7 linked regions of the Homo sapiens genome follow. The protein of the gene in region 1 purifies or fractionates together with the protein of each later gene. This does not show direct contact. Each region holds a gene or a part of one and is shown in the gene's direction. Other genes may lie near its edges.

Region 1 (3,500 bases):
AAAGCCCAGCCTGGTTGGTGTGCTGTAGGTAGATATTCATGTTCAAGGCTCTGTCTCTTCCTGACCTCCGAACTGTTGTCATAAAATCATTCATTCATACACTAAACCATTTGATATGTATTTACTGAATCCCCACTCTCTTCTAGACACATTATAGTCAGTGTTTAATCTGTATACTTACTTAAAAATAGAAATGGGGTCTTGCTATGCTGTCCATGCTGGTCTCAAATTCCTGGGCTCAAGCGATCCTCCTGCCTCAACCTCCCAAAGTGTTGGGATTACAGGTGTGAGCCACTGAGCCTGGTCAGCCCTAAACTTTTAAATAGTGTGCAGCTCTGGCCACAGAGAGGATTATTGAAGATTAAGTAGGCTGGGTGCGTTGGCCTCCTGCCAAGCCAGGAGGCTTTTAGCCCAGGAGTTTGAGACCAGCCTGGGCGACATGGTGAGACTCCATCTCAAAAAAAATTTTTTTTTTTTGAGACGGGGTCTCACTCTGTCCCCCAGGCTGGAGTGCAGTGTTGCGATCTCAGCTCACTGCAAGCTCCACCTCCCGGGTTCACGCCATTCTCCTGCCTCAGCCTCCCGAGTAGCTGGGACTACAAGGCGCCTGCCACAACGCCCGGCTAATTTTTCGTATTTTTAGTAGAGACGAGGTTTCACCATGTTAGCCAGGATGGTCTTGATCTCCTGACCTTATGATCCACCCACCTCGGCCTCCCAAAGTGCTGGGATAACAGGCGTGAGCCACCGCGCCTGGCCTACAAAAAAAATTTTAAAACTAGCTGGGCATTGTGGTTCAAGGAGTTCAAAGTTGCAGTGAGTCATGTTCACACCACTGCAGGAGTTCAGGGTTTCAGTGAGCCATGTTCGCACTCCTGCATTCCAAGCTGGGCAACAGAACGAGACTCTTTTTAGACTATGTTTATTTGGAATAAATTCTTGTTTGTTTTAATTTGCCAAGGTATGTTTCATTTTTGGTCCATCTTAATGCTGGTGTCTGGTTACAGGTACCATTGTTGGATACTGGTGACATCATCATTGACGGAGGAAATTCTGAATATAGGGACACCACAGTAAGTGTTCTTCAGTCCAGATTCTTCCAGGTTCCGAGAACATTCTAGAAAAAAGTGTCAGCATCGCATATGTGACAGTAGGGTGAACTGCCCTGTGGTACTGATTTTTTTGAGATTACTACTGATACAATAGTTCTCAGCCTTTTTTTCTGTTAAGACACACTTAACAGAAGGGCCGGGTGTGGTGGCTCACACCTGTAATCCCAGCACTTTGGGAGACGGAGGCAGGTGGACCAAGAGGTCAAGAGATCAAGACCATCCTGGCTAACATGGCGAAAACCCGTCTCTACTAAAAATACAAAAAATTAGCCTGGCATGGTGGCATGCGCCTGTAGTCCCAGCTACTTGGGAGGCTGAGGCAGGAGAATTGTTTGAACCTGGGAGGCAGAAGTTGCAGTGAGCCGAGATCATGCCACTGCACTCCAGCCTGGGCGACAGAGTGAAACTCCATCTGAAAAAAAAAAAAAAAAAAAAGACACTTGGTGGGTGAGATTCTCAGTCACACATACAACTCAAAGGATGACTAACTCAGATACAGCAGGCTGAGAATTACGTTTTAACTCCTCCCCTTCCCCTTCCAAGTAATCCATGATATGTCAGTCTATAACTGGTTTAGAACCACTCCTCTAATGGTATCAAATGCTGAGGGAATTCCTGTGTGCTCTGAAGTGCTGAATGGCATTAAGTTGTATTACACCTACTCTTCGTTGAGTCTTATTCAAGGTCTTTTCCAGTAAAATGCCAATGTGTGTTTGGCTTAATTATTTTACTTTGGGGATGAGGTAGGTATCGTGAATGTCCATAGTTGTATTGTTTTGTTTTTTAACTCCTACACATAGGGGATTAACTTTCCTGAGTCATCAGTTATTCCTAGATCCTTGGGTCATTTCCTGTAAATGTAGGCTCTCCATTCCTATCTTATACTTCCTCTCATTTATAAGGGAAACATTTTTGGGTAGCATAATGAAACATGGAAGCATAATGAAACATGGAAGCATAATGAAATTATTTTTCTGTCCTTCAGAGACGGTGCCGAGACCTCAAGGCCAAGGGAATTTTATTTGTGGGGAGCGGAGTCAGTGGTGGAGAGGAAGGGGCCCGGTATGGCCCATCGCTCATGCCAGGAGGGAACAAAGAAGCGTGGTGAGTGCCATCAGCACTGTGCCCATCTCTGTACAAGGGAGCTGGACTTTGAGAACGAATAAGCCAGGAGCAGTTCTGCCACCCTGATCTCTGTGGTGCCCTGAGTGTGACAGCTGGGAGATGCTGGCAATTTCTTTTATCTAGACATTTTGTTGCTTTGATATAGTATATGTGCACAATCCTCTTTTGCCTTTTTTCTTCTGTTATTTCTATCAAGACTGATACCTGACGTTCTAAATAGGCTTTTTTTTTTTTTCCCGCCCAGGCAGGAGTGCAGTGGTGAGATCTTAGCTCACTGCACCCCCCGTCTCCTGGGCTCAAGCAATTCTTGTGCGTCAGCCTCCTGAGTAGCTGGGACTACAGGCACATGCCACCATGCCTGGCTAATTTTTTGCCTTTTAGTAGAGACAGGGTTTCACCATGTTACCTTGGGTGGTCTCGAACTCCTGACCTTAGGCGATCTGCCCGCCTTGGCCTCCCAAAGTGCAGGGATTACAGGCATGAACCACCACACTTGGCCTCTAAATAGGCTTTAAGGAAGCAGTTTAGGTAATGTTCTGTGCAATGTCTGGATGTAGGAATAAGGTCTGCCTCTTTTAGCTGATATATAACCCAAAAGTAACTTAATGTGATAATCGTGGGTAACAGGCTGGGCATAGTGGCCCATGCCTGTAATCACTGCCCAGCACTTTGGGAAGCTGCGGTGAATGATCATTTGAGCCCAGGAGTTGAAGACTAGCCTGGACAACATAGCGAGATCCTGTTTCTACAAAAAAGTAAAACAAACATTTTTTTAATTAAAAAATATAAATTGGCCGGGCGTGGTGGCTCACGCCTGTAATCCCAGCACTTCGGGAGGCTGAGGCAGGCAGATCACCAGGTCAGGAGATCTAGACGATCCTGGCCAACATGGTAAATTCCTGTCTCTACTAAAAATACAAAAATTAGCCGGGCATGGTGGCGTGCGCCTGTAGTCCCAGCTACTTGGGAGGCTGAGACAGGAGAATTGCTTGAACCTAGGAGGCAGAGGTTAGTGAGCCGAGATCGCGCCACTGCACTTCACCCTGGCGACAGAGTGAGAGTTTGTTTCAAAAACAAAACAAAACAAAACAAACAAAAAATACACACACACACACACACACACACATATATATAAATAATTGTGGGCAATCCGATATATATATAAATAATTGTGGGCAATCCGCTTGCCCTGGCCTCCCAAAGTACTGGGATTACAGGCGTGAGCCACCGTGCCTGGTCTGAAATATGATTCTTTAAGGCTGG
Region 2 (3,500 bases), on another chromosome or scaffold:
TACATGTAGTTTCTACCCTCAAGGTTGCCTCATGGTCCAAAATGGCTTCTGATGCTCCAGCCATCACATCTCAATTCTAGGCAGTAGGAAAGAAAAAGAAGGGAAGGACAAAGTGGCCCCCTTCTTGTCTTTAGCAGCCTTTCTAGAAATCTCACATAATATGTCTATTTCCAATACTTGACTAAGACCCAGTCACATGGCCACTTCTAGCCATAAGGGAGGCTGGGAAGGGTGTTTCAGTTAGCCGCATGGCCACCCTAAATCATTCATGGAGGGGTAAAGTGGATGATCTTTGAGGGTCACTGCCAGCAATCCAGTCCCAACTCCATCTGTAAGTCACGTTTGCCTTAGACAAATCACTTAGCCTCCCAGAACCTCAGCTTCCTCCTGTATAAAATGAGGGTTATAGGAGTTAAGGAACTGACTGTCTTGGTTTCCTGGGACTGAGGGATTTCCCAGTGCATGGGACGATTTGGTCCTCCCCATAGCAGTTCCTACATGCAGGGCTGCTGTTGGAAGAATTCAGCAAGATTGGGTGTGTTCTCCTGCTAGCCTCTGGTAGAGAAGAATTCAGCGAGATTGGGTGTGTTCCCCTGCCAGCCTCTGGTAGATGCCCACTAGATTAGTTTCTCTCCTCTTCAAGAGAGGAGGCGGGGCGCCTGGGGTAAGTGACTCCTGCAGGGTGTGCATGTGTGTGAAGCCTTCCAACACCCGTTCCTCATTCCAGCCCTACCGGATCTTCAACACCTGGCTGGGGGACCCGTCCAAGAACCTGTTGCTGGCTGAGGTCATCAACATCATCAAGCGGGAGGACCTGCTAAATAATGCAGCCCATGCCGGGAAGGCCCTGCTCACAGGACTGCTGGACCTCCAGGTAACACCCCCTCCCCTGCCCCGCCCCCACCACCCATGGCTCCCCGCAGCAGCCTCCGGGGCAACACTGGAGCTCTTCGGCATGGTGTTGTGCCTGCTGTTCCAGCAGTTCGTAACGGGCTGTGCTGCTCCTAGCCTTGGGGGCTTTGCACATGCTGTGTCCTCTGCAGGGGATGCCTCCCTATCCCTCCATCCCATTCCAACCCCTATTCCTGAACTCCTGGTTTTCTTTGTTGTTGTTTTTTTTAATTTATTTTTTATTTTTTTAATATTGAGACATGGTCAAGCTCTGTTAGCCAGTCCGGCCTTGAACTCCTGGCCTCAAACGATCCTTCCACCTCAGCCTCCCAAAGTGCTGGGCAGCGCCTGCCGGCACTGGTTATCTTTCTTATTTATTTTATTTTATTTTATTTGTCTATTTATTTTTTGAGACCAAGTCTTGCTTTGTACCCAGGCTGGAGTGCAGTGGCGCAATCTCAGCTCACCGCAACCGCTGCCTCCTGGGTTCAGGAGATTCTCCGGCCTCAGCCTCCCAAGTAGCTGGGATTACGGGCATGTGCCGTTATGCCCTACTAATTTTTTTGTATTTTGAATAGAGACAGGGTTTCACCATGTTGGCCAGGCTGGTCTCGAACCCCCGACCTCAGGTGATCCGCTTGCCTCAGCCTCCCAAAGTGCTGGGATTTCACGAGCATGGGCCACCGTGCCCGGCCCTGGTTATCTTTTGACACCAATTTCAGACATCCCCCCTTTGAGAGTCCCCCAAGCACTCCCTCTCTCACCCCCTCTAGTGTGTTCATTATTCCCGCCTTTGTGCAACCTGTTGCATACTTACCACTCGGCAGCACTGCCCTCCCCTGCTGGAGCTGGATTACTCTCTACCCTCAAGGTTTCGTCATGGGCCAAAATGGCTCCTGGAGCTCCAGCCATCGCATCTCAATTCCAGGCAATAGGAAGGAAAAAGAAGGGAAGGACAGAGTGGCCCCCTTCTTGTCTTTAGCAGCCTTCCCAGAAATCTCACATAATACTTCTAACACTTGATTAAGAGCTGGTCACGTGGTCACTCCTAACCGTAAGGACGTGTGGGGATGTGTGTGTGTGAGTGTGGCAGGCAGGCCTAAAGGGGTGTCTAAATGGAAGAGACTTTAATCTAAACCATCCCAGGGCCACACTCTGTGGGAGAGGGAGGGGTGTGTTCAAACTGCCAGCTCCCCAGCAATTGACAAGTGCAAGGAACATGCTAGAGTAAGTGCTGGAAGGACTTCTGAGCCTCAGTTTCCTTATCTGTGTAGACCAAAGTGAGCCCTTCTTCACTGGCAGGGGATTCAAGAATGTGCCCACTGCCAGGCACAGGGGCTCATGCCTGTAACCCCAGTACTTAGGGAGGCAGAAGCAGGAGGATTGCCTTCAGCTCAACTGAGTTTGAGACCAGCCCGGGCAACATGGTGAGAACCCATACTCCACAAAAAGAAACAAATTGTGCACATAAGTGTCTAACACGGTGCCCGGCTCTGTCACCCCCAGAATAGGACCATGTCTCCAGTTTCTACCAATGAGCTGCCGTGAAATAAGACTTGCTCCCCCAACTCAGCCCCCAGTACCCTGAAATTATTTGGGGTTTTCCAAGCCCTTGTTTGCTGTCCTTCATATGGACAGCAGAGAGTAAGGTGAAATCAAGGTCCTCCAGACTAGGCACCTGCATTTGTTTCCTTGTCTGCTGTAAAAAATCACCACAAACTGTGTGGGTTAAAACAAGAATTTATTCTCTCACAGTTTGGAGGCCAGGGTCTGAAATCAAGGTTTCAGCAGAGTTGGCTCCTTCTCGAGGCTCTGGGGGAGAATCTGTTCCATGCCCCTCTCCACCTTCTCGTGGCTGCCGGGAATCCTTCATGTTCCTTGACGTGTGGAGGCTTCACTCTGCTTCTGGCGTCACTTGGTGTTCTCCCCACTGTGCCTGTGTCTGTCTCCAGATTGTCTTCTTCTTATAAAGATACCAGTCATTGAGCCGGGCGCTGTGGCTCACACCTGTAATCCCAGCACTTTGGGAGGCCAAGGCAGGTGGATCACTTGAGGTCAGGAGTTCGAAACCAGCCTGGCCTACATTGTGAAACCAGTTTCTACTAAAACTACAAAAAAAAGTTAGCCAGGTGTGATGGCAGGTGCCTGTAATCCCAGGTATTTAGGAGGCTGAAGCACAAGAATCTTTGAACCTGGGAGGCAGAGGATGCAGTGAGCCGAGATAGTGCCACTGCACTCCAGCCAGGGCAACAGAGTGAGACTCCATCTCAAAAAAAAAAAACAAAAAACAAAAAACAGTCATTGCATTAGGGGCCATTCTAATGCAGGAAGACTTCATTTTAACCTAACTAATTATTTCTGCGAAGACCTTATTTCCAAATTAGGTCCTAGTCATAGGTTCCAGGTAAACATGAATTTAGGGGGCAGTGGGAGGAAACTATTCAATCCAGTACAGCTCCCAGTCTCAAAGCCCTGAGGGAGGACAGGCATTTCTTCTTCCAGAAGAACCACCTTTCTAGAAGAGCTGACGATGGAGATGGCTAACATCTGTGGAGCATCCACCAAGTGCCCAGCCCCAGGCTTAGGACTTAACATGTGAACCTTATCGT
Region 3 (4,054 bases), on another chromosome or scaffold:
TGCTGTCTCCTATGGGTTAAAATGAAAAGGATGTATCCTACAGGTGACGGTAGGGACAGAGGCCCTCCCAGTAGTCACGTTAAGCTAGTACTGACAGAAAAAGGAAAAGCCTGTCCAGGTGGCTGGGCAACCCTGCAGCGAGGCATAGATGAGCTTGTAAATCAAAGGAAATGACCAAGGTGAGTCTCAATCCTTTTAGAGGTTTATTTTGCCAAGGTTGAGGACACATCTGAGAAAAAGGAACACAAAATCACAGGAACATCTGTGATCTGTGCTCTTTCCAAAGAGGGCTTGAGGACTTCAATATTTAAAGGGAAAGAGCAGGCAGTAGGGGAAAGTGGAAAGTAAAAAGGGAAGGTAGATAAAAGGGGAGAGTAGTTGCATTCTTTGGGGCCTTTGATCAGCATTCACTGAATGCGCATGTTACATTCGTGAAAGGAGGTCGTAGAGGAATAGTCAGTTATGCATTCGTCTAGTGCTTGGTGAATCTGCATTTTTACAAGATTAAATATAGGGTAGAGGAAGCGGTCAAATTGCATTTTTCTCCAGCGAGAGGAAGGATGACTCCTAGACCTGTCTTTGTCCCATACTTGGGAAGATAAGCTGTTAGTTTACATTGCCAAGATGAAATTCAACTGATCTGTTTTAGAGTAAAGATCTTGCGGGCCAACAAGGAATTTCCTTGGGGAGGTGTGTGGCCTTTGATCTTTGTAGCTATTTAGCAACAAAATGGGAGGCAGTGTTGCCTGACTCAGTTTCCAAGCTTGACTCTTCCCTTTGGCATAGTGAGTTTGGAGTCAAGAGATTTTTATTTTCCCTTCACAAGCTGAACAGGAGCCTTTGGAGAGAACGCTCTGGACCGGTGAGTGAGCCATGAGGTCGGGCCACAGGCTCTGAAGTCGTGAAGCCTTGGGACGGAGCGGGTGGTGCTTCGAGGTCAGTGTCACGGGAGGGAGGTCAGGGTCAGGGTCAGACGTGGAGCCCCGTGGAGTGCGGAGTGGTGACCCCTTCGTTCGGGGGCGGAGGGATGACTGAGCATTTATAACTTTTGTGTATCTCCCCGTGGGTGCAGCCCTTGGCCAGCGAGATGCTTTGACACAGCCCCTTAAGATGTTTTAAGGGCTATCCCATAAAGCCGGGAAGGCACAACGGGTGGAGCTGGCGGCCGCCGGGGGCAGGCACTTTTGAGCTAAGGAGGAAGCGGGGGAGGGAAGGAGGGCGGGAAGGACGCGCCACCTACTTCCTGAATCCCCTGCAAACCCCAGAGGAGCTCGGCCTGCGCTGCGCCACGATGTCCGGGGAGTCAGCCAGGAGCTTGGGGAAGGGTGAGGCCTGCCCGCCGCGAAGAGGGGGTGATCTCGGCGACCCCCGGCGGCATGTTCGAGGCTGCTCCGGGAGCCCAGCCGCCCGGGAGCGCCCCACCGGCGGGGAACGGGTCGGAGCTGCAGTGGGACGCGGGGGCGGTGGGATACGGGGGGTCTCGACACCTCTCTGGGCCGTAATCGCCTTCGCTTCTCCCCGGCAGGAAGCGCGCCCCCGGGGCCGGTCCCGGAGGGCTCGATCCGCATCTACAGCATGAGGTTCTGCCCGTTTGCTGAGAGGACGCGTCTAGTCCTGAAGGCCAAGGGAATCAGGTGGGCACCCAGGCGGGGGACGCTCCCCGAGCCGTCCGGGAGCCTGCTGCAGGCGGCGGGGTGGGGTGGGGTCTCAGCCCCCTTCTACCCCCCTCCCACCAGCGTCCTTTACTGCACATTAAACTATTCTCGGCCCTTTGGAAAATAGCAAGTTATAGGCCATTCCCCTAGGAAAAATAGGCCACAGATTCCAACGGTCTAGGACACCTCATTTAGATTAACCAACCATTTAATGGATTAGAAAAGCTGAGGCTCCAGTGATGTTAGTGATTTGCCCGGTAATAACCGGCAGCAGCTCTTTTAGCTTTGGTAGGTCACGAATTCCTGGTCCAGAGTCCTTTCGCTTTCGCCCTATTGTGATTTCCCGTTCTTATTCCAGCTTAACTGTTAGTTGTTATTCTGAATGTATTGTTCCCTCCTAGAATAGTAATTTACCCCAGTACAGCAGAGTTTAGACCCTGACCCTCCTAGGGTAGTGCTGAGTTTACTGCACATATTCCTGTGGATTGGGCTGTTGGTTGAGTCAAATAGAGGGAAGTGTCTGTCTAGCTCATCCTTCTGCAGAGCCTGTTTTGAAACTAGCATAGTTTTTGACTTACGGGCTATCCACAGGATATGTGCAACAGTCACTTGACTTTTCTCTGACACCAAGTATCCATTGGAACCACTTCCCTTCCCATGACCTTTGGATGTCTGTTGATTAGACATTTATTAGATACCTTTGGTGTGGAAGGTTCTGTGGAAGTTTAAAACAAACCCCCTATTCTTAAGGAATTTTCTGTCTGTGTGCTTAGTGTTTGTGAACTAATTTTAGTCTTCTAAGGGGATAATCTTTAGGGGTAGGCAATTATTTTCCCTAAAAGAAAGGTAAAATGCATTTAAAAAATACATTTGAAGGGGATTTGTCATTACTTCACTAAGAAATGCATCTCATTTGGATGAGATTATGATTCTGAACACATAGAGTACTTACTATTTCATAATGTTTCTCAAAAACACTGTCATATTTGCTGTGATAGAACTCTTTTATTGTACTAAGAGAAATCTAATGTAACCAAAATTGAAAAAAGACATTTTTTGGTACTCATTTATTTGAAAAGTCCAGGAGCATGACACAGCTGGATTCAGAGGCACAAAGTCCTGGGTTATGTGCTTCACCCTGGACCTTTAGTTTGAAAACAACCCTACCTTATTTACTGGGGCAGTTTTCCAAAGGAACATTGAAACTATCTTCCCCTAATAGTGTGGGGTAGAGGGGAGGAAGAGAGTGGTTAACAGCTTCCAGACAGTGCAAACAACAAAGGTCTACTACATTAATAGACCAGTTTTAAGCTTGAGCCCGAGGAGGCTTTTACTGGGAAAGTACTAGATTTTAACCACATGATATGACTTAACAAAGCATGGTTTTCTCTAAAAGATGCATCTTCCAACTTGCTGTGGCAGGTGTGTAGACTTGTTGGCTCACAATGCCAGCTTACCAAAATTCATGTGTGTTCTGACATACTTTTTTTTTTTTAAATAACAAAAGCCCAGGATCTTTTTGTTTTCATAGTAACAAAAGTTTTTGTTTTATAGTTCAAAAATGTTGATAATTCTTTGGCAAGGAGCCAAATAATTTTTTTTTTTTTTGCAATGGCTGGTACTTAAGTGTCCAGTATTGTCAGCACATGAACCTTTTAAATTACATGCACACCTGTGCTCATGTTCAAATTGGATGTTCCTTTGTTTACATGGGGGATTATGTATTTAAATCCTCAAATGAAATGCTGTTCTAGCTACAGCTGTGGATGGGAAAATAGAAAACAAAAGGTATTGGTGTCTATTTTTTTTTTAGTAATCTGTTCTATTGAACATTTATTCAGCCTTGACAATCATATGGACCTAGCTCCTTTCTCTTAGTTCCTCTACAGTCTCAGGCAACATACAAGATAGACCTAAATACAATCTGACTATAGCCTGGACTTCACCTGTTTTCTTCCTTTTTGGTTTACTTTGTATGATTTACTCAGACAACATTTTTTAAAAAATCAGTACATGGAGATTTAATCTGAAAGCTTATTTTGTGGGTGGATTTTTTTTTTTTTTTCGAGACAGGGTCTCGCCCTGTCACCCAGGCTGGAATGCAGTGGTGCAATCATGGCTCACTGCAACCTCTGCCTCCAGGGCTCAAGCAATCTTCTCACCTCAGCATCCGGAGTAGCCGAGACTACAGGTGAGTACCACCACACTTGGCTAATTTTTATATTTTTTGTAGAGATAGGGTTTCATCATGTTGCCCAGGCTGGTCTTGAACTCCTGGGTTTAAGCAATCCGCCCACTGCAGTCTCCCAAGGTTCTGGGATTACAGATGTAAGCTACCAAGCCTGGCCTTGTGGGTGGATTTTAAGGATTCCTTAATATCTTCATAAAAACCAAGAAAC
Region 4 (3,500 bases), on another chromosome or scaffold:
AATCTGATACTACATTTGTAACTTTAAAGTTTATTAAATTTGTTCACCATAAACATTAAATTGCGTTAAAGATTACGTTAAAGCTAAGAAAAAACCATGCACTCCAAATGATTATACCCTTCATTACATGGTAAAATATGAAATGACATAAAAGCCAAATATTTCTCTATTCAGCCAATTTTTATTTTTTTCATGTGTTTTGGAGCAAATATTCATAGACGTCTTTTATATTAGTTTTAAATATTAATAGGTAATATTAGTCATTGTCCAAATAGATTTCCTTAGAGTTAGCAGTAATATTTTTAAAAATTCCATTACTATGGACTGCTTCATGACTAGTTCTCATAATGTCAATTCATTCATCACATGTGGAGACTAACCCAGAGCATAGATGGTTTGGCAAGTTCAGCTCTGCCACTTGGAGCATAGCATGGACCTGACAACTACCCAGAGAATGCAAGGGTTGTCCTCACCTAATTAAGGCCTCCTCTGGAGACCTGTGTGGCCTGGGGTTAAGTGTTTGTAGTTACCCAGCAGAGGTCAGTTATGACTATGCTCTGTGTTCACTGGGACTTAGGGTTACAGTATGGGACACATGTACTTGAGGCCTTCTTTAATGTATTTGTGAAGCTTAGACAAATACATCCTTGGAAACTTGATGAAGATGTGGCTTATGGACCGGGTGTGGTGGCTCACACCTGTAATCCCAGCACTTTGGGAGACTGAGGTGGGTGGATCACCTGAGGTCAGGAGTTCAAGACCAGCCTAGGCAACATGGCAAAAGCCTGTCTCTACTAAAAATACAAAAAATTAGCCAGGTGTGGTGGTGGGTGCCTGTAATTCCAGCTGCTCGGGAGGCTGAGGTATAAGAATCGCTTGAACCCGGGAAGTGGAGGTTGCAGTGAGCTGAGATCATGCCACTGCACTCCAGCCTGGGTGACAGAGTGAGACTCTGTCTCAAAAAAAAAAAAAAAAAAAAAGACATGGCTTATGATTTTATTCTATTATCTACCTAAAAGGAAAATTTTGACTTCATATAGTTAATATTAAAATGATAAATTATATAATTAAAAAAATAAACATGCTTTGATTTTCTTATATTTTTAGAGATTACAGTATTTCAGTAACTATCAAGGAAATTATTCATTGTTTAAAAATGTGTGCATTTATCATACTATGCCCTTGAATATCTTTTTTCGTTTAGTTTATACATGAAAGCATCCATGATGAGGTTGTAAACAGACTTAAAAAGGCCTATGCACAGATCCGAGTTGGGAACCCATGGGACCGTGAGTATCTCCTTCTGCTTTCAAAGCGATCCCTTTTTGAGAGCTGTTGTTAACAAGTGTTTCTGATCTGAGTTTTGGAGTTTCTTTCCCTTTCCTGAGAGGCGTGAAGGCACATGAAGCAGGTTATTAGGCTTTGGTGTATCGTGTCTGCTCCTAGGTTTCGACCCTGGCTGCTTGATGTGTGCTAGTGGGTGAGACTGGGAGAGGTTGTTTAGATGGAATGAGATTTAGTGTGCTTCTCTCTCATTACTATTACCCTTGTCCAAGCCGACACCATCCCTCTTGTGCAAGGCTGCAAGAATCCCCTAACTGACCTTTCTGCATCCATTGCTACAGAATGATTTTTAAAATGCAATCAGATAATTCACTCTCCTGCTTAAAATACCCCTCAGTAACTTCTCATTGCTTTTAGATTTTTTTTCCTTTCTTTTTTTTTTTTTTTTTTTTTGAGACACAGTTTCACTCTGTTGCTCAGGCTGGAGTGCAGTGGCTTGATCTCAGCTCACTGCAGCCTCCGCCTCCTGGGTTCAAGCAGTTCTCCTGCCTCAGCCTCTCGAATAGCTGGGATTACAGGTGCATTCCACCACGCTTGACTGATTTTCATATTTTTAGTAGAGACAGGGTTTTGCCACGTTGGCCAGGCTGGTCTCGAACACCTGACCTCAAGCAGTCTGCCTGCCTGGGCCTCCCAAAGTGCTAAGATTACAGGTGTGAGCCATTGCGCCAGGCCTGCTTTTAGATTAAAACCGAGAGTCCTCTTGATTTCTTCTTTTTTGCAGGCTCCCGATCCTTCCTGGTCTGCTCTCTGCCTCCTGCCCCGCTTGCCTTCTCACCAGCCTTTCTGTGTCTATTTTCCCTCTTGCTCCCAGAGCTCCACCTTCTCCAACATCCTTTCAGTGTTCCAGGCATGCCAGGCTCTATCCTACTGTGCTGTCTGCTGGAAACATTCTTCACCCAGAGTGGGGATGGCTCTGCTAACATGCCTCCTCCTCATAGAGGCCTACCTACATCTTCCTTCTTCTTTGTTGCTGGGTCACTGTCAGTGCTCTAGTCCCCAGCAGCCGTAACATAGGACAGCATCATTCTCTTCCCCCTTGAATTATACACCAACTACTGAGACTGTGATGTTTCCTTAGAGAATGGTCACACTGTAATGAGTAAACTGACCCTATATTTTGAGTGCAGTGCTTTGAGTAATTGATAGCCATTCCTTTAAACTAGAGATTGGCAAACAGACTTGGCTCTGCCTGTTTCTGTAAAAAAAAGTTTCTCGGCACATACCCACTCATTTGCATGTCATTTATGGCTGCTTTTGCACTACAATTACGGAGTTGAGTATTGGGATGGAGATCACGTATGTCCTCCAAAGCATAAAATATTTACCATCTGGTTCTTTATGGAAAAAGGATGCTGACTTATGTTCTCAATTGAGAGCATATAGGAAGGGATTGGTCTGTTCATTGAGAAAGCTGTTCTAATAATAAAACGATGCCATAAAGGGCAAAATGATGAGCCAGCCTTCCTTTTCTCTCTCCAGCTAATGTTCTCTATGGGCCACTCCACACCAAGCAGGCAGTGAGCATGTTTCTTGGAGCAGTGGAAGAAGCAAAGAAAGAAGGTGGCACAGTGGTCTATGGGGGCAAGGTAAGGGATGCTCTGAGATCAATTGTGACAGCTTTTTAACCTTCTTTTCCCTGAGACACAAGCAGGGCTCTGGGCATATTGGAAAAGCCACCCCATTTGACATCCTTCTTCTCCTGTCTTTATTTATATATATTATTATAAAACAAGGAAACACATGTTTTTGTTTGTTTGTCTGTTTTTGAGACAGAGTCTTACTCTGTGCCCAGGATGGAGTGCAGTGGCGCAATCTTGGCTCACGGCAACCTCCGCCTCCCAGGTTCAAGTGATTCTCCTGCTTCAGCCTCCCGAGTAGCTGGGATTACAGGTGCATGTCACCACACCCAGCTAATTTTTATATTTTTTGGTAGAGATGGGGTTTCCCATGTTAGCCAGGCTGGTCTCTAACTCCTGGCCTCAAGTGATCCACCCACCCTGGCCTCCTAAGGTGTTGGGATTACAGGCATGAACCACCACACTTGGCTCTGTTTGTTTTTGTGACAGGGTCTTGCTCTGCCACCTAGGCTGGAGTGCAGTGGTGCACGATCTCAGCTCACTGCACCCTCTTCCTCCTGGACTAAAGCAATCCTC
Region 5 (3,500 bases), on another chromosome or scaffold:
AATTTACAACTGTTACAAATAGCATTTGTATCTATATTTAAAAAGCTCTTCAATTGACCAAGCAGATGTTATTACAGATTTTTGTCTTTGATATGATAAATTTCCCATTAATTTAGAAAATCTGTGTTTAAGGAATGTGCTATCATTGCATAGTTGAACTGCAATTTGTGAAAGTTCAAGCTGCTGTACTGACAAACCATTTGACAAATTTGTAACTGAGACTCTTTTAAGCAAAGACTAACTTCTGGAGCCTAATGGTCTGTATTTTCTGTTCAGACGCATACACTTTAATTTCTTCTCTTTTGTGGGTCCAGGAGGTGTGATAGACATTACCTATATGTATACATATACATACATAGATATATGTCCATATTCCGTCATATGTTTGCAGCCTAAGTTGTATGTGAAGTTGTGTATACTTTTTAAAAAATTAAAAATGTTCACTTTAAGCTTTCACTAACTTTGAAAGAAATTTCTCTTTGTCTAGGTTGAAGAAATTGTGGATATTGGAGCATTTGCTCCAGAAGACATCCATATTCCTCAGATTTATGTACATCGCCTTATAAAGGGAGAAAAATATGAGAAAAGAATTGAGGTAATTGACTTAGCTGCTTTGTCAGTATTCATGGATCCAGTTACAGAGATAGTGCATCCCTGGGGCCATTCGAGATGATGGGGAACTAGAGCTGAGCAGAAAGTCTGGTCTTGGATCTTAGTAAGAGCTTCTCATGTGTCTATCATCATGGGGATATGATGGTCTATGCCTCTGTGCAGGCTGACAGTGCCTTGTCATCACAAGATATGTATCACCATGCCATGAGATTCTCTAGGCTGTGTCTACTAGGCTTCTACTGTCCTAATTTATGATCTGTAGTTTTTCTGGCTGTCTTAGAGGGGAGATAAGAATAATCATGTCTTTGGTGGTTTTATCCCTGCTGTAGTCTTATCTTAATGTTTGATTGTTCAGAATTGTCTGTCTTGAAGGTGCTTTGCACTTTTCTAGAGTGTAGAATGTCATTCTAATTAGCTTCAGGCTGTGGGTAGCTGGTGAGTATGAGATTGTGGCAAGGAGTGTAGGTACCAGGAGCATTGAAGGTATTCTAAGGCCAGTGTGTTAGTCCCTTTTGCATTGCTGTAAAAGAATACCTGAGACTGGGTAATTTATAAAGAAGTTTGTTTGGCTCACACTTCTGTGGGCTATACGTGAAGCATGGCACCAGCATCTGCTTCTGGTCAGGACCTCAGGAAGCTTTTACTCAGAGCAGAAGGAAAAGGGGAAGCAGGCATGTCACAAGGCGAGAGAGAGAGAAGGTGCCAGGCTCCTTTAGACAACCAGCTCGTGTGTAAACGAACAGAGGGAGAACTCCTGCATTTCCAAGGGATGGCACTAAGCCAATTCATAAGGGATCTGCATCCATGATCCAACACTTCCCACTAGGCCGCATCTCCAACATTGGAAAGTACATTTCAACCTGAGATTTGGAGGGGACACATATCTAAATCATCAGCCAGTGAGAGTAGACAATGGCCACCCTACCAGAATTACTGTCATGATTTAGAAGTGTCTAGGGATCAGCAACAGAATAGACATACAGTAGGGTGCTAGAGATACCCACTACCTTGTAGATATCAAACAGGAAGACATTTTATAATACAAAACCAGTGTCAGGGGCCCAGGAAGAAAGGATGAGACTTTTGCAAACACGAGCCAGAGTTTGTGTCAAAGAGACTTAATAGAGGAAATAGTTTCCTGGCTGGTTTCTGGGTATTTCTATGATTCCTGTGGTGCATTTGTGGTAAAAATAGTCTGGACTTTGCAGGTGGAAACAGGCAATTGGCAGCAGCAACACCTGGTAAACACATTCTGACAGCCCTGAAAAACACATTCCCAAAGTCTGTTCCTCTTTCATTCTTCTGGCCAATCCCTGAGCACCAGAGGAGAATTTAGTTGGAAGAATAACAGAAGGAGCAGACAGTGTGATAGTAACAGATTATTTGCTTCAAACAGACTGAACAGCGTATCTTCCTCTTTAAACAAATCTGACCACTTTCATTTAGTTCCTAAAGAATTATTTCTACCATCAAATATCACCCATAGTATTTTTTAAATATCTGGTATATTGCAGATTTGTCTCATAACAATGGGAGAGAGCTCATCTTTTTTTCCAGTAAAATTTATTTCAGCAGTGATAAAATACAAAGCATACCTCAACCACGAATAATTTATTTCTGTTTAATTTAAAGCGTTTATCAATCCGGAAAGAGGGAGATGGGGAAGCCAAATCTGCTAAACCTGGAGATGACGTAAGGGAACGAATCATCAAGAGGGCCGCTCTTGAGTTTGAGGATGGCATGTATGGTATCCTTTATCCTTCTGAGCCCGGGCAAAGACATAGCCTTTGCTTTTCCCATATTGATCAGGCTATTAGACCTCTTGCATAGTGAGTCATCTCTAGTCTATGGTAACTTTTAAGGTAATTAATCAATTTTTTTTTTTTTTTTACAAAATGTGGCATATAATCCAAAGGTGTCAAGATACATGACAGATATCTCTTTGCCTTCTTGAAACAAAATGGCAATCAATAATTTGCTTAGCTATTTTCTAATACCCATTAGATTTCAGTACAACTTGCATTTAATGGGAGATTATTGGGAAAAGAGATTACCCAAGATGAGTGTTTTCAAATCTCAGAATTCCTAGTGATAACCAGTGCTATTTACTTTCTGTCTATCCTGACATTTGCATACTCATTGAAAGATCCAACTTCTTAACAACCCTTTTATTCTCTTGACAAAGATCCTGTGATTACCCTGTTATATCTAATATTTTATGAGGGTATTCAACAAATGATTCAAATTCTGCTTTAGATACTTTGTCAAAAAAAGAGGTAGAGTAGACATAATTAATGCAATTAATATTTGGATTTTGAATGCATTTAAATAACAAATCTGTTCACCATTTTGCTAGTTTTCACTACAGTAGACATTGAATTATATAATACAAATAACACATACAAATACAGATCGCATATGATAAAATGAATGTTTGTTGAATGGTGGATACAGTGAAGCCATACTTAAAAGACCTAGGACAGAAAGAATGAGAGACATGACAAATGTCTCCATTCTGTGAGCTTCCCTGGTCCATGAATGTCAGTCTTCCAGACTGTGATCTTGACTGGGAGAACTTTTCTTTTTTCCCTTTCTTTTTACCTCTACCTCATTTTTGTTCATTTTTCAGTTTATACCTTGTGTTATGGTGCAAACTCACATAGGGGAAAAGAATAGCATGTTGCTGCTCTTCCAGTTCTTGTATCAGCAAGGTGTGGTGTCAACCAAGTTGAGTTAGTAGGTAAAAGTTGGTCACTGGACTTCTCAACCCGTCTTATCCTGACTTACCATTGATATTTAAACACTGACTATAATACTGATTTTAGGTGTTCTTTATTCAGTTATTGTATTGCCTGTGAAAAATATTTGCAAGTCAGTTTATGCAAGTG
Region 6 (3,500 bases), on another chromosome or scaffold:
TTGGTTACTCTGAAGAAAAAAACTTTTTTATTTTTTTTTGCAACAGAGTCTTGCTCCATTGCCCAGGCTGTAGTGCAGTGGCACAATCTCGGCTCACTGCAACCTCCACCTCCCGGGTCCAAGTGATTTTCCTGCCACAGCCTCCCGAGTAGCTGGGATTATAGGCATGCACCACCACGCCTGGCTAATTTTTATATTTTTAGTAGGGACAGGGTTTCGCCGTGTTAGCCAGGCTGGTCTCGAACTCCTGACCTCAAGTGATCCACCCCCGTTGGCCTCCCAAAGTGCTGGGATTACAGGTGTGAGCCACTGTGCCCAGCCACTGAGTAGCATTTTATGACTGGGTTGATTAAAGCAGAGAATGTCAGCTTTATAAAAGGGACCACCAGTACAATTTGAACAAAAACTTGGGACATTGTCAAAGTTGTCCACTCCGACTAAAAGGATTCTTAGGTCAGGTTTTGTCAAGTTACCTGCAGAAGCTACTGAATGCGATATTTATTTATTTGTTTGCTTATTTATTTATGAAACAGAGTCTCACTCTGTCACCCAGGCTGGAGTGCAGTGGTGCAATCTCAGCTCATTGCAACCTCCACCTCCTGGGTTCAAGCGATTCTCTTGCCTCAGCCTCCTGAGTAGCTGGGATTACGGGCATGTGTCACCACACCCAGCTCATTTTTGTATTTTTAGTAGAGACTGGGTTTCACCATTTTGGCCAGGCTGGTTTCAAACTCCTGACCTCAGGCGATCCACCAGCCTCAGCCTCCCAAAATGCTGGGATTACAGGCATGAGCCACTGCACCCGGCCTGAATTTATTTTTTTAAGAGATAGGGTCTTGCTCTCTGGCCCAGGTGGGAGTGTAGTGGCATGATCATGGCTCACTGCAGTCTCAACCTCCTGGGCTCAAGCGATCCTCCTGCCTCAGCCTCTTGAGTAGCTGACGCTACAGGCATGCACTACCACACCTGGCTAATTTAGTCTTTCTATGAAACCTAAAAAGAATGATTGGTGAGTGATAGCAGTGGATAAAATTAGTCTTAAAGTTGCAGCAGTGCGGTTCAGCAACTATTAGATAAACTGGTTTCAGGTTAGAGGCCGCTTCAGCAACTAGGCTTGCAGGTAATAATTTTTGGAGCAATGCTGTGTGTCCTGAGTGCTTTTCCCCTTGGCCTTTTTTTTTTTTTTTTTTTTTTTTTTTGAGATGGAGTCTCACTCTGTCACCCATGCTGGAGTGCAGTGGCGCGATCTCGGCTCACTGCAAGCTCCGCCTACTGGATTCAAGCCATTCTCCTGCCTCAGCCTCCCGAGTAGCTGGGACTACAGGTGCCGACCACCACACCCAGCTAGTTTTTTGTATTTTTAGTAGAGACGGGGTTTCACCGTGTTAGCCAGGATGGTCTTGATCTCCTGACCTCGTGATCCACCCGCTTCAGCCTCCCAAAGTGCTGGGATTACAGGCGTGGGCCGCCGCGCCCAGCTCCCCTTGGCTTCTTGACTCTGTTGCAGCTGGGTATGGTGATAATGACCCAGTCCATAAGATCAGCGTTCACATGTGGCTCATGACTAGACCGCGCGCCTCCTTGTGGTGGTACGGCAGTGGGATGCACATTTTCCTTTGACCAGCGTTCTCCCAGCTGTCGCACCGCTCACTCCCATGCTGTTACAGGTCACCTCTTGCAGGGGCATATTTGATCGCTGGGCACTTAGTGTTTGTTGTTCCATCATTATGCAAACAGCCGCCTCTTGATGAACCTTCAGTGACCCAGAAGAAGGTGTGAGAAGTGTGGCTGGACCCCGCTTTCGGAAATGCTCTGGACTCCCCTAACGTCCTGGGGAATTACAGGGTTCCTTCACATGTTTCCAGTTGGAAGCAAGTACTCCACTTACTTTGGCTTTTGAAAACTATTTCCCTAGCCATCGACGAGTACAAGCCCCAGGATGCTACCACCAACCCGTCCCTGATCCTGGCCGCAGCACAGATGCCCGCTTACCAGGAGCTGGTGGAGGAGGCGATTGCCTATGGCCGGAAGCTGGGCGGGTGAGTGCCTGGACTCGGGAGGGTCCCAGCTAGGCCCTCGTGCTAGTCTAGTTGGCCTTGCTTCCCTCCCTAACTGAATTTTAGTTCTCAAACACCATGAACTCAAGGGGGGAAAAAAACCCTATCTTTTTGCCTATTTTTGTTTATTGAAGTGTAATCTGCATGAAGTAACCTGCACCTGTGGTAAATGAGCAGTTCAGAGAGTTTTGCCAATGTGTGTACCCTGTAAATACCACCCCAGTCAAGATGCAGAGCACTTGCAGACCCCCACAGGCCCCTCCTCCCCTCCTGTAGTCAGTCTCCCCAGCTCTGGTAACACTTACCTTCTGGCTGTCATTTTATTTTTTACTTTTCAGACGGAGTCTCGCTGTGTCACCCAGGCTGGAGTATAGTGGAGCAATCTTGGCTCACTACAACTTCCGCCTCCCTGGTGCAAGCAATTCTCCTGCCTCAGCTTCCCAATTAGCTGGGCTTACAGGTGTGTGCCACCACTCCTGGCTCATTTTTGTATTTTTTTTTTTTTTTTTTTTGAGACAGAGTTTTGCTTTTGTTGTCCAGGCTGGAGTGCACTGGCACAATCTCGGCTCACCGCAACCTCTGCCTCCCAGATTCAAGCGATTCTCCTGCCTCAGCCTGCCGAGCAGCTGGGATTACAGGCATGCGCCATCACACCTGGCTATAATTTTTGTATTTTTGGTGGAGACAGGGTTTCACCATGTTGGCCAGGCCGGTCTCGAACTTCTTACCTCAAGTGATCCACCTGCCTTGGCCTCCCACAGTGCTCGGATTACAGACGTGAGCCACCGTGCCTGGCTTTTTAATTTTTTAATAGCTTTTATAACTCCCAGAATGTTCTCTGGTACCTGTTTGCAGTAGCTCCCCACTCCCTTACCCAACCAAGCAACTGTAGAGCCCTCTTCATGCCTGTGGCTTTGCATATTTTAGATGTCATTTTAGATTCTCTTCAGGGTAATAATTCAAAGCTTGAAGATGGTGCCGAGCAGGCAACGTGGGCACCACACAGGAGCAGGTCCCTCTCTGGTACTGGCTTTGCTTAGGTCCAGGTGGCTGGTGAGTGGCTCCCCTGACCATGTTGTGACAGCCACTCTGGACACTGAGTCTGACCCTCTCCTCTCTCTTCTTAGCTCCCTTTTCCTCATCTCGTGGTGTTGCACCCCTGTGGCATCAGTGAGGCCTTGGTGCTCCTGTTATTGGGTGACATTGGTGCCTTTGCTTGGCTGGGTGATCAACAGATGAGCCCTGCACCCATGTCCAGATGGCCCCAAATTTTTTTTTTTTTTTTTTTTTGAGATAGAGTTTGGCTCTGTCACCTAGGCTGGAGTGCAGTGTCACAATCTCAGCTCACTGCAGCCTCTACATCCTAGGCTCAAGCCAGCCTCCCACCTCAGCCTCCCAAGTAGCTGGGACTACAGGTGCACGCCACCACACCTGGCTAATATT
Region 7 (3,500 bases), on another chromosome or scaffold:
AACACTGCCCTGGAGGAGAGCTTCTTTCAAGATGAGGCGTTTATAGATAAAGACGTATTCACAGGCTTACAAAGATAATGTATAGACTTCACGTTTCTTTCTTTTAGGGGCTCAAAGCACTTTATGAGCATTTCTTAACTCACCTTCAAGTGCGCGCAGGAATTCGGAGAGCAGTGGGCCCACTGTTATTGTGCTCCATGTCCAGATTGGAAGCTGAGGCACGAACCAATGAGGCAAAGTGTCTGTGAACACAAGCAGAGTCAGCCAGAGCTAGGCTCCCTTCATACACCAGGGGATTCCGGGTAGGGTTCAGTTTCTGGCTTGTTTGTGCAGTTCTGTGATGGGAGTCAGTGTGGTTGGTTAAATTAGCAGAGAGGAGAACTCATGTATCTGTTCCCATAGCCCACCCAGTTTGTTTGTTTTCCAGTAAAAGGATTCTACGATGAAGCAATAGGGAAAATTTTATCTGCATTACCAGCATTTCAGTCTGCCTGGGAATAAATGTAAAGAATTGGGGGTTTTCCCGGAGTGAATTTTAGGACTCCCTGAGTGATGACATTCTCCATCTCACTCTCTGCTGGGTTTCCTTCTGCTTCTCAGCCCCTTCTCACTGTCCTTTGACCGGTCCTCTTTCTTCACCCACCATTTAGATATTAGGATTCTAAGGAGCAAGCTTCTGGCCTGCTGTTTGCACAACATCTCTACCACATGTCACTTCTTACCATGATTATAGCCAGTACCTACCCACTGGGCACTCCCAAGTTTCTGTCACTAGATCCTTCTCCTTCCCAAATTGGTATCTCTGACTCCAGTTCTGTCCCAAGTCTAAGGAGATTTTTACATGGTCAGACACACATTTAGATAATAATTGTTGCATGAATGTATTTCACAGAGGGCCCTTAATATTCATATGCCCCCCAAACTAAATCATGAACACCCCTACAGCTGCCCCTCCTGCCTAATGTTACTCTTCAGCCTTTAATCCCTATTCTGGTTAGCGGCATCTTCTTCTACCCAGAGGCTTAACTGGAAGCCCTGGAGAATCCTCTCTTCCTTCCTCTCTCTTACCTCCCTCCACATACAGGTACCTCTCAAATCTGCCTTTCTCCCACCTTCATCATCTCACACTTGGCTGTTCCTGGGCTCCGGTGGCCCCACATCTCTCAACCCCTTGCCATTTCCCCTGTCCCTCCACTGCCAGCAGAGGGATCCTTCCAAAGCACAATTGGATCGTGCCAGTCCTCTACTTTAAAACCCTTTCCAGGCCGGGCGTGGTGGCTCACACCTGTAATCCCAGCACTTTAGGAGGCTGAGGCGGGTGGATCACCTGAGGTCAGGAGTTTGAGACCAGCCTGGCCAATACGGCAAAACCCCATCTGTACTAAAAATACAAAAATTAGCTGGGCGTGTGCCTGTAGTCCCAGCTACTCGGGAAGCTAAGGCAGGAGAATCACTTGAACCTGGGAGGCAGAGGTTGCAATGAGCCGAGATTGCGCCACTGCACTTCAGCCTGGGTAATAGAGTGAGACTCTGTCTCAAAAAAAAAAAAAAAAAAAAAAAAAAAAACCCTTTCGTAGGTCTACCTGTGCATATAGGATGAGGTTCAAACTCTTTAGCATGGCATTCAAGGCCTTCGCATCTGGCTGCAGTGGATCCACTTCTCCTGTTTCAGTTCCCACCACTGTCCCCTCAGATGTTTATTATGTGAATGAGTGAGTGAAACTTATGTAACCACTTCACTCACTAGGTCCTAAGTGCTGTCATCTTTAGCTCTGTCAGGCTGAAGACATCACTTTCATTGTTTAGCCCAGAATTGTTCATTTAACCAAGGGGTCCAACATATTCAGGCACTGTGTTAGGTGCTCAGTGTACATCAGTGACCAAAAAATAACAAAAATCCTGCCATTGTGCAGCCTATATTCTATCAGAGGACACAAACCATAAACAATAAACTTAATGAGTAAATTATATAGTATGTTAAAAGGTGATAAGTGCTGTTAAAAAAGAAAGAAAGAAAAAGTAAAACATAGGAAGAAGATTGGGATGGGGTTAAAGAATGGGGTTTACAAGGTAACAAAGCATTTTAAGAATAGGCCTAATTGAGAAAGTGAGAATTGTTCATTGAGCCAGTTCATAATATTACTATGGTTTTTTTTAGTTGTATTTTGTGTTTTTGTTTTGGAGACAGGATCTCACTATGTTGTCCAGGCTGGAATGCAGTGGCTATTCACAGATGTGATCATAGCACAGTGCAGCCTCAACTCCTGGCCTTGATCAGTCCTCCTGCCTCAGCCTCCCAAGTAGCTGGGACCACAGGCATGCACCACAACACTCAGCTACATGGTATTTCGTTAGATTACCATCATGTCCCTCACCCTGGAGTCAGGGAATTAAAAGGCTCTTCTGAGCAAACTGCCAAGTAACAATAATAGCTACTGTTTGTTGTGAGCTTACTACGTGACAGGCTCTGCGCTGAGCAGTTTGCATAGTCTTTTCTCCTTTAATCTTTACAGTAGCCTTCGAAGATTGATGTTATCACTATCCCTATTTTACCAGTGAAAAACCTGAAGATTTGAGAAATTTTAGAATTAGCTTAAGACCTAGAAAGGGCAGCACTAGGATTTGAGCACACACTAGCCATTTTGCCTCTAACTGATGAAGGAAGACATTTGAGGAGCACTCCTTTGGAGCTTTCCAAAATCAGTATTTAAAGAGCCAACATTGTCCCTTTTCCTAGAGAACAGTTCAGTGTCACAGCACAAGTAGGGGGTGCAGAGAGCACTCAACACCTGCTTCCACCTCCAGCACTTGATTCATTTCAGACAAATGGTTCTCCAACTAAAGACATGGTTCATAAAAAACTCCAGTGTCTTACAGGCTCTTATTGCCTGAAAAAAGTCTTTCCTGGATGTTCATTGTCTGTCTACTAACCCAGTTTCCTCTCATTTGAACCTCAATGAAGCTAGAGCCCAACTTTCTTCATCTCCCTTATAATCTCTTCAATATATTTGAAGAATCAAGCCTCTGCTATTCAAAATTGGTCTCAGTTTCATCCATGTTCTGTAGCTGTTGTCTAGACATTGGAACAACCAATCCATTACAGAAAACATCCTGGGTGTTCACATCAGTGATGCTGCAATCCACATGCTGAATGCTTGTCCAGCATGACTAACCACTTGTAAAAGAGCAAAGCATGATTCAGAGGACTCCACCAAAAATAATGCATTATTTGGCCTAATCTTGGCCTGGTGCAAATTCAGACTTTTGAGTCATACAGCTCATTAGAAATCGGGATGTACTTGACTCTAATAAAAATTTTAGTGCAACCCAGATTTAGAGTGGTATATTTAGGCTAGGCTACAAGACAAATTTTGGAACAGAAGCACATGACGTAAGGGAGAGAATAATAATCTTGAAAAGAAAGGCTTTATTGCTTCTCTGTCCCCAATTTCTGCCATCAAAAGAAATACCAGATTTAGGAACAGTCTCTTTCCTTACTA

What was found.
Region 2: the proteins of PGD (region 1) and ABAT fractionate together in Homo sapiens (co-fractionation; one large-scale study listed by BioGRID). This does not show direct contact.
Region 3: the proteins of PGD (region 1) and GSTO1 fractionate together in Homo sapiens (co-fractionation; one large-scale study listed by BioGRID). This does not show direct contact.
Region 4: the proteins of PGD (region 1) and ALDH7A1 fractionate together in Homo sapiens (co-fractionation; one large-scale study listed by BioGRID). This does not show direct contact.
Region 5: the proteins of PGD (region 1) and OXCT1 fractionate together in Homo sapiens (co-fractionation; one large-scale study listed by BioGRID). This does not show direct contact.
Region 6: the proteins of PGD (region 1) and TALDO1 fractionate together in Homo sapiens (co-fractionation; one large-scale study listed by BioGRID). This does not show direct contact.
Region 7: the proteins of PGD (region 1) and HEBP1 fractionate together in Homo sapiens (co-fractionation; one large-scale study listed by BioGRID). This does not show direct contact.

What each region holds. Positions count from the first base shown.
Region 1 is NC_000001.11:10,402,064-10,405,563, forward strand, and holds part of PGD (6-phosphogluconate dehydrogenase, decarboxylating), read left to right. Parts: intron 1-1,007; coding exon 1,008-1,073; intron 1,074-2,097; coding exon 2,098-2,216; intron 2,217-3,500. UniProt on the Homo sapiens protein: Catalyzes the oxidative decarboxylation of 6-phosphogluconate to ribulose 5-phosphate and CO(2), with concomitant reduction of NADP to NADPH.
Region 2 is NC_000016.10:8,775,617-8,779,116, forward strand, and holds part of ABAT (4-aminobutyrate aminotransferase, mitochondrial isoform 1 precursor), read left to right. Parts: intron 1-727; coding exon 728-874; intron 875-3,500. UniProt on the Homo sapiens protein: Catalyzes the conversion of gamma-aminobutyrate and L-beta-aminoisobutyrate to succinate semialdehyde and methylmalonate semialdehyde, respectively. Can also convert delta-aminovalerate and beta-alanine.
Region 3 is NC_000010.11:104,253,638-104,257,691, forward strand, and holds the start of GSTO1 (glutathione S-transferase omega-1), read left to right. Parts: upstream 1-1,254; 5' UTR 1,255-1,291; coding exon 1,292-1,325; intron 1,326-1,525; coding exon 1,526-1,634; intron 1,635-4,054. UniProt on the Homo sapiens protein: Exhibits glutathione-dependent thiol transferase and dehydroascorbate reductase activities. Has S-(phenacyl)glutathione reductase activity. Also has glutathione S-transferase activity.
Region 4 is NC_000005.10:126,553,720-126,557,219, reverse strand, and holds part of ALDH7A1 (alpha-aminoadipic semialdehyde dehydrogenase isoform 1 precursor), read left to right. Parts: intron 1-1,204; coding exon 1,205-1,289; intron 1,290-2,826; coding exon 2,827-2,933; intron 2,934-3,500.
Region 5 is NC_000005.10:41,804,426-41,807,925, reverse strand, and holds part of OXCT1 (succinyl-CoA:3-ketoacid coenzyme A transferase 1, mitochondrial isoform 3 precursor), read left to right. Parts: intron 1-487; coding exon 488-595; intron 596-2,244; coding exon 2,245-2,359; intron 2,360-3,500. UniProt on the Homo sapiens protein: Key enzyme for ketone body catabolism.
Region 6 is NC_000011.10:753,964-757,463, forward strand, and holds part of TALDO1 (transaldolase), read left to right. Parts: intron 1-1,915; coding exon 1,916-2,039; intron 2,040-3,500. UniProt on the Homo sapiens protein: Catalyzes the rate-limiting step of the non-oxidative phase in the pentose phosphate pathway. Catalyzes the reversible conversion of sedheptulose-7-phosphate and D-glyceraldehyde 3-phosphate into erythrose-4-phosphate and beta-D-fructose 6-phosphate.
Region 7 is NC_000012.12:12,976,266-12,979,765, reverse strand, and holds part of HEBP1 (heme-binding protein 1), read left to right. Parts: intron 1-143; exon of another isoform or gene 144-335; intron 336-744; exon of another isoform or gene 745-825; intron 826-3,500.